2 separate regions of the Homo sapiens genome follow, and region 1 is linked to region 2. The links come from fine-mapping of genetic effects on gene expression. Tissue or cell type: lung. Region 2 holds a variant in brackets; the other region holds the start of a gene. All regions are shown on one strand. Distances are between the middles of the regions.

Region 1 (4,014 bases), 46 kb before region 2:
CTGACTCAGCAACTTTCTTTTTTACTTTACAACCTGTACTTAAGGTGCAAGCATATGACTGAAACCTAGCTTTCAATTTTTCTTTTTTTTTTTTTTAATCAGGCAGCCTCCAGAACCAGAGTAGGCTCTAAGAGATTCCCCTAGCTTTCAAACTGAGCAGCAAAGCCAATGCAAAACCAGTATTTGTTTTGGCAGGAAGCTCCAGTGAAAATATGAGATGTTTTGGTCTTAACTGGCAGATACACAAAGAGCAAAGAAAGGTGCCTTATTGAGTTATTATTTATAATGTAAAATCCCTTGTGTATAGCTACAAATCCACTTTTATTGCAGATACTTAATATGTTTCTTTATAGAAAGTAGCTCAACCAAATAATCTCCCAAATTTGGCACCAGGAATTGTTACAGCCTACACACCACTACAGTTCCTTGTAATTTAAAACATTTGCGTTTTAAGAATAGTCTCCACACTCCAACTATGCTGCCAATTTCTTCAGCTAAAAGCTTAAGTTTATACTACAAAATACTGTATTTACTCTCGACAATAGAATGCACTCATTTACAAAGCATACAGGACTAAATTACTCCAATATGCAACTTCAAAATTTCTCCAATATACAACGACAACATTTCTAACATCATAGCTTTTCTATTACCCAAATCAGTAAGTCTAAATAGTAGTACTGTACACTGCACGAGGTACTATTGGCCAAAGTCAAGTCGCATATGATCAGTTCACTACAACAGGTTATACAAAAGATCAGACCCCTAATCTCAATAAACTATTTTGCAAAATGGTCAACGGAGATACCAATGCGGAGGAAAGTGTGGATTGAGTGGCAGAAAACCCTTTGCCACTACTGAAAAAAAAAACAAGTCAAAGCAAGCCTATATGACAGGCAGATCATGTTCATGAATACAAATCTAACTTCATTGCCGACTTCCCAGTCTCACAGCAAGACGGCAGTTTACCAACTCTTTAACAGTAATACAAAGAACAGGACAGAAAATATAGTTTCTTTTTTGCATGCTATAGTGATCAAGAATAAAGGATACCTTTAATGTTCAAAGATGAAAACTTCCTTTTGCAACTAATATTGCTCTTATCGCGTGTACACAGAAAAATCATACAACGCTCTGCATTTCTGATAGAGTAATACACACTATCACATCAAATCAAGTATTTATCCAGAACTTAGCGCCTTAGCACTAACGTTCTCCCCTCTCATTATACACAGACCGGAAGGGAAAACCTATTCCTACGTAAATTAGGGCCTAGGAAGAACGCCTCAACACGGGTTTGCACACAATTAAGCAGGCTCAGTGGGTCAATTTCTCAGGCTACAACGCTTGACAGTATCTCGGAGGCACAAAGAGACAGCTGAGGGTTCACTACTGGAAATGACACTTTCCCTCAAATTTGCACAAGTACCCGCGGTAACTACCCTAAATTTTCCCGTGTGACAAACATACATAAGGGGAGAAGGAGGCGGTACTATTTAAAAACTGGGTAATTCCTTATTAGTGCAGATAAAAGACGGTCTTCGAGAGGGAAAAGGTCTATCAAGCAGAAAAGGGGAGGAAAAAAAAAAAGACGTGACAGCATTCTTAAAACAGAAAAAGTTACAGCTCTTTACAGGAGTCAGCCTTAGGACTTCATTCCTTGGTTTTGTGTTTAGTCACTCCAGAGTTAAAAGGATACTGCCCTCCTAGAAAGTCATCCCCGACAAAGAAGCCCTGAGGATCGGCCACCGTAAGACAGAGAAGGAAATGTCTTCAATTCACCAGAGACACCTGCCCAGGTCCCCCTCCTCCCCGTTGTCCCCGACACTTCTCAGTCCCCCGACTCCTCTCGAGACTGCCCGCCACCCCTGGCTCTAGCTCTCCGCTCTCTCAGCCTCGACCCCCTCTGGGAAGCCCCGATCCTGCTCCCTCCGCACCCCGGCCCCCACCAAAGCGGCCGTCGCCCCGGCGGTCCCCCGGGCCCAGACCCCTCGCGCTTGTACGCAAACGATTCTCATGGGCCCGGCGGGCGACGCGGGGAGGCTCTTCAGGGGCAGCCTTTCCCCGACTGCATCCCGCAGGATCCGGGGACTCCCCGCCCCCGGAAACCGCGGAGAAACTAGGCCACGAACGCCAGCCGCGGCCACTCTCCGCCTCCTCGGCGACCCCCCGCGGGCCAGCCACTCGGAACTCAGCCCTCCGGGCTCTACCTGTCCCGCGCCCTCCCAGCCTTGCAGCGCAGGCCCCGCGAGGGCACGGCGCAGGCTTCCTCCGCCAAAGGCCCCGCGCCGCAGCCTCACCTGCTGCCTGCTCCTCTGTCAGCGCAGCCCCGACACGGCTTCTTCCTGGGGCAAGAAAGCACCGGATTCGCGGACTGGGCGCGCTCGGCAGGGCAGGGCGGGGGACTAGCTCCAGCGGCCGCCGCCGCCTCAGTCCGGTCTGCGCCTGCGCCGCCTCGCGGGCAGGGTCTCCGAGGGGCGCCGCCTACAGCCAGGGGCGATGGCCGGAGCGCTGGCCCGCGCGGGTGCCTCCGCGCTGTGAGCCGTCGGACAGTGCGGGCGGCGCGTCGCCTAGGAGCTGCCCGCGGCGCAGCCGTCCCAAGACCTGACCGCCATGTTTCTGTTCCCTTTTTCTCCCCCGCCTTCCGCCCCTTTCCACAAAACAGCACTTTCTTTTCCCCCTCCCTCTCCCTTTCCTCCTGCGGGGGCGGGTGGAAAAGGGCGGGGGGTGGGAGGGAGAAGACGCAGGGAGGAGGGGGGCGGTGCGGTGCTCAGGCCCCTCCCCCGGGGAGGGCCGAGGCCCTGCAGCCACCGCTCCCCTCCCCCGCCCGACCCCTGTGCGACCCCCGCGGGGCGCGGGGTCTGAGCCTTGCGGGCCTCCGATCCCCTCCTCAGCGTTCGCGCGGCCGAGCCTGCAGAAACAGAGCTGGGGAGAAAGCGCTCTGGAGGCCGCTGTGCACCCCTTCCTGCAGGGCTCAGACTGGCGGTGTGATGTGGGTTTATTGCCTTGGCCTGAGGCAGGTGGCGGCTGCTTCTCTCGGAGTTTTCAAAGACAGGGAAAGTGATGCCGAGTGGCTGAAGGTCACTGAGGACAGTGCCGGGAGATACGTGAAGATTCCTTCCCAGGGAAGGAATCTGGAATTCCCACGCATGAGTAGAGGGCTCTAGAGAGACCCGCGCGCTGGCCCTTCCCGAAACCCCTTGGCTCCAGTGCACCATGTGAGTCCCTGGCCGCGCTCGGTGTCTCTCCTTCGGCCCAGATTTGGGGATGGGAATTCCTAATGGAGAAATCGCTCATTTGCATAGTCAGTACCCTCACGCCTCCTAAGTGTAGCCTCATTATCGACACAGACGCCTGCAGAGTCGTTTCTCTATAATGCAAATTTTGCAGGATATTTTTGAACAACGTTTTTGAGTTATCATAGTAAATGAAAAAGCAATTACTAGTTATTTAGGAAGAAGGAAATGGTTTGAAGTAGAGATAACTTTTTTACCTCTGGGGGGAAAAAAAGGCGAATGACTTCAGATTCCATGGCAGGTCAAAATCAGAACTGGTAAGATTTCTGCATATCTGGTGAGTATCCACATAAATAATCATTTTCCTGAAAATTACACTCTCCTTATTTAATCTGTATTTTTGCATAAAAATGTGAGATTATACCTGGGTCATAAATGCACTGCTGTCCATTTATTTCTGAAGTTTATTGCATAGCCATGGATAATTTGAGTTTTATATTCAATAGCAGAAACTATTTTTCTAACCACGTAAGCAGTCAGAATTGATTTCAGAAGAAATGCGCAGCAATAAAAGTTAAGGCTTATTTAATAACAGTTTGGGGCCAATTTGGTCCCCCTGGAAACTATCTTTGACATTGACAATCCGAAGAGCAAAAGTTTAAGAAAGGATCTAATACTTCAAAATTTAGCTTGTGGGCCGGACGCGGTGGTTCACGTCTGTAATCCCAGCACTTTGGGAGGCTGAGGCGGGCGGATCACCTGAGGTCGAGAGTTCCAG
Region 2 (4,346 bases):
TTAGTAGATACAGGGTTTCACCACATTGGCCAGGTTGGTCTCAAGCGATCTGTCCTCAACTCCTGGCCTCAAATGATCCACCTGCCTTAGTCTCCCAAAGTGCTGGGATTACAGTCATATATCACCATGCTCGGCCAAAATAAAGACAAAGATTTTTACGTTTTTAAGGATAAGATCAACTTATGACTATAGGCACAGAGCCAGGACAGGACTCTAGGTCTCCTGACAGTAAGGAAGAGATATTATAATGTCTTGAGGTTAAAAGGAAGGAGATCTTCAAATGGTTAATGCTCAGTAATGACTATGGACATTCTTCTATTTTGGTTATAGAGAAACAAACCCTGGATTTTTGCTTCTTAGTTTTCTTTTGGATTACTTAAGGGGTGAGTATTCTTTAGGTGACGGTGCTGATTATGATCCAGTCTATGATTAACACATTTATTACCTAATCTTTTTCCGGGTAACTGAAGTTTAATGTTTGCTGAATTATAGTTGATTGAGAAAGAGGACCTTAAGGAGAGATTTCAGCATCACTTCCACTGAGATTTATTTTTAAAAAGGTTATAGGGTGGTTATTGCCATGCTATTGAGATATCCAGGTGAGCTTTGCATATTTCAGATGCAATTCTCTGGTACAGTTCTATTTTCAGTAAACCTACCCCAATTTCAAAGCTCTAATCAAAAAAGAGGTTGTATTGGCCAGATGCAGTGGCTCACACCTGTAATCCCAGCACTTTGGGAGGCTGAGGCGGGTGGATCACATGAGGCCAGGAGTTCAAGACCAGCCTGGCCAACATAGCAAAACCCCGTCTCTACTAAAAAGACAAAAATTAGTTGGTGTGGTGGTTCACATCTGTAATCCCAGCTACTTGGGAGGCTGAGGCACAAGAATCGCTTGAACCAGGGAGGCGGAGGTTGCAGTGAGCCAAGACTGCCCCACTGTACTCCAGCCTGGGTGACATAGCGAGACTCTGTCTCAAAAAATAAAAATAAAAATAAAAATAATTTTTTTTTAAAAAAAGGTTGTATATGTAATCCCAGCACTTTGGGAGGCCGAGGCAGGCGTATCACCTGAGGTCAGGAGTTCAAGACCAGCATGGCCAATATGGTGAAACCCTATCTCTACTAAAAATACAAAAATTAGCCGGGCGTGTTAGTGGACACTTGTAACCCCAGCTACTCGGGAGACTGAGGCAGGAGAATCGCTTGAACCCCAGAGGCAGAGGTTGCAGTGAGCAGAGATCATACCACACTGCACTCCAGCCTGGATTACAAGAGCAAAACTCCATCTCAAAAAAAAAGAAAAAAGAAAGAAATCAAAACTTAAACACACATTATTTTATTTGATCCTTACAAAAATTCTCTGAGGTAGACAGAAGAGGTTTCTTCCCTGATCACAGAAGAGAAAACAAAGGCTCAAGGAAGTTAATTATTATAACTATTCTACAGCTAATAAGTTGGTTATGCAGTCATTAAGTCTTTATTGAACATCTCTAGCATCCAGGCATTGGGTTAAGGAACCGGGACTCAAGTTCAAATGAATCACACCTCAGTGTTGTTTCTCTTATTTGGAGTAGTTCTTTAATGCATCAGTTTTAAAAGACTGAAAGTTTTAAACTTAGGGTGGCTTTCTTACAACTTAAAACTGTTTAATAGAGAATTCTTAATTCACATAGTATAATATAATATACCCAGCAACATTCTGCAACAGGCCAGGCGCGGTGGCTCACGCCTGTAATCACAGCACTTTGGGAGGCCAAGGCAGGTGGATGATCCAAGTTCATGAGTTCGAGACCAGCCTAGCCAACATGGAGAAACCCTGTCTCTACTAAAAATACAAAAAAAAAAAAAATTAGCTGGGCCTGGTGGCATACTCCTGTAGTCCCAGCTACTGGGGAGGCTGAGGCAGGAGAATCACTTGAACCCAGGAGGCGAAGGTTGCAGTGAACTGCACTCCAGCTGGGACGACAGAACAAGACTCTGCCTAAAAAAAAAAAAATTATGCAACAGTTGACTACAATCAAAAGAGAAAAGTAAAGGTTGACTTTTCTAACTATGGTATTTTGCCTGCTAGGCATTCTAGGTTTTTATTTTAAAAATTTCTTAGGAAACTCCAGCTGTTACAAGGAAGTATTGCTTTTGGTTTAATGTTTTATCCTGCTAGTGCACTCCACCCTTAAGTGATCTTGGTGACTAATAGGACTGGCACCAGTTCTCACTTACCAGATGTGAATTCCACTTACTAGTTTGTTTTTTGTCTTCTGCTAATTTGCAGTTGTAGACAAAAACGGAGTAAAGAAGTTCTTAAAATAAATGAAAATCGGCAATGTAGTCGCTCTTTAATTTTTGAATTGGCCTGGCGCAGTGGCCTCACCTAAGAGTCATATGGTTGTTA[T/G]GTTCCCTGATGTTAGGGGGCCCTCCCCTGCAGCCCACAGTGACTCAGAAGGCAGCTGCCGAGAACAGGAAGGCCTGGGGTTCATGTGACAAGCCACCAGCCTTTACCAGAGCAAACAAAGTAGGTGGGATGTTCCCCTGTCCCCTGCCCACCAGTTTTATAACACATTTCAGGGCTTTTTTTTTCCCTTCCTCAGACTGCTCTGAATTTTCTCTTTGACCTAATTTGATTTGTGGAGAAATGCTGTCGAAAGGGCCTGCTGAGATTTTGTCCTGGCCTGCCTCACTGAAGAAGGCCAACAATCTGTTTGCATAGCAAGAATGAAAAAAATGTTTCTGTGCTTCAGAGATTACTGAATACTTTTTCCAAAATGAATCTGTTCCTTCTAGCAGGGATCGTTTTGCTAGTTGGGAAGATAAAGCTGTCAATATTCAGTAGCTAATCTCTAGATTTCTTTCTGTGATGGAGTCTAGCTCAGTGCAGGCTGAGGGGCAGTGGCACGATCTCAGCTCACTGCAACCTCCCACTCCTGGGTTCAAGCGATTCTCCTGCCTCAGCCTCCCAAGTAGCTGGGATTACAGGCACGCGCCATCACACCTGGCTAATTTTTGTATTTTTGGTAGAGATGGGGTTTCACCATATTGGCCAGGCTGGTCTCAACTCCTGATCTCAAGTGATCCACCCGCCTTGGCCTCCCATAATGCTAGGATTACAGGGGTGAGCCATCACATGTAGCACCAATCTCTAGATTTCAAGAGACCACATATTGTCACAGCTTCTTGGAGATTTTCTTCACTGGATTTAAGTCATTGTTCTCCAAAGTGTGTTCTGAGAGCTACCTACATTTGAATCATCTAGATTAAGGTATCATCATCTCTACTAAAGGACCTTGTAATCTGTGTTTTTTTTTTTTGAGATGAAGTCTCCCTCTATTGCCCAGGCTGGAGTGCAATGGTGCAATCTTGGCTTACTGGCAACCTCCGCCTCCAGGGTTCAAGCAATTATCTGCCTCAGCCTCCCGAATAGCTGGGATTACTGGCACCCGCCACCACACCCAGCTAATTTTTGTATTTTTAGTAGACATGGGGTTTCACCATCTTGGTCAGGCTGGCCTTGAACTCCTGACCTTGTGATCCACCCACCTCGGCCTCCCAAAGTGGTGGGATTACAGGCGTGAGCCACTGCGCCCGGCCCGGAATCTGTTTTTAACAAGCACTACAACTCCCCAGAATTCTTTTTTTTTTTTTTTTTTTGAGATGGAGTCCCTCTCTGTGGCCCAGGCTGGAGTGCAGTGGCGTGATCTCGGCTTACTGCAACCTCCAGCTCCTGGGTTCAAGCAATTTTCCTGCCTCAGCCTCCCGAGTAGCTGGGGTTACAGGCGCCCACCACCACGCTGGCTAATTTTTTGCGTGTATTTTTAGTAGAGACAGGGTTTCACCATCTTGGACAGGCTGGTCTTGAACTAACCTCATGATCCACCTGCCTCGGCCTCCCAAAGTGCTGGGATTACAGGTGTGAGCCACCGCACCGGGCCAAAATTTATTTTTTTGCACAAAATTAACTTAGCTAAATCAGAGTTCACAAGCCTTCACTGGTAATGTGACCCACAGGAGAGAGTCCTGGGGCAGAGGAGGAGTCTTGTTTATGCCTTTCCTGTTTCCATTCCTGTACTCCCTGTCCCTGCCAAAATGCCATTTCTGATAGTGTTGGTCACTGCAGAAGGAAACAGGAAAAAACAGGAAGGAACTGAGGAAACTTCAGTGTTCCCTCTTGATTACAGTAGTGTGGGAAACAGGCCTGGGTTTAGAAAGCAATGCAGCAGAATGCTTAAAAATCATTCACAAAGCTTGGTAAAACCACAGACTCCCCTTCTCCCCATTCTAATTAAGTGGGTATGCGGTGGGGCCTCAGAACCTATATTTGTAAAAATACCTACAGTGATTCTAATGCA

Evidence for each region. PIP is the estimated chance that this variant, and not a neighbour inherited with it, causes the effect.
Region 1: it holds the start of DENND4C, and the variant in region 2 is fine-mapped to the expression of DENND4C in lung (TOPMed, PIP above 0.99). The same link has a PIP of 0.9 or more in aorta, breast, esophagus muscle, fibroblasts, subcutaneous fat and sun-exposed skin.

What each region holds. Positions count from the first base shown.
Region 1 is chr9:19,229,120-19,233,133 of GRCh38, reverse strand. DENND4C (DENN domain containing 4C) reads right to left here and starts at 2,441. Exons shown (of 33, transcript NM_001330640.2): 1 at 2,301-2,441. RefSeq lists silencers at 1,894-2,033, 2,254-2,623, 2,704-3,003 and enhancers at 1,637-2,142, 2,143-2,649, 3,034-3,283.
Region 2 is chr9:19,182,536-19,186,881 of GRCh38, reverse strand. No RefSeq gene overlaps it. Among named protein-coding and RNA genes, the nearest start is that of DENND4C, 46 kb to the left of the region's middle. RefSeq lists enhancers at 1-378, 2,357-2,406. The variant T/G (reference allele first, on the strand shown) is at 2,396.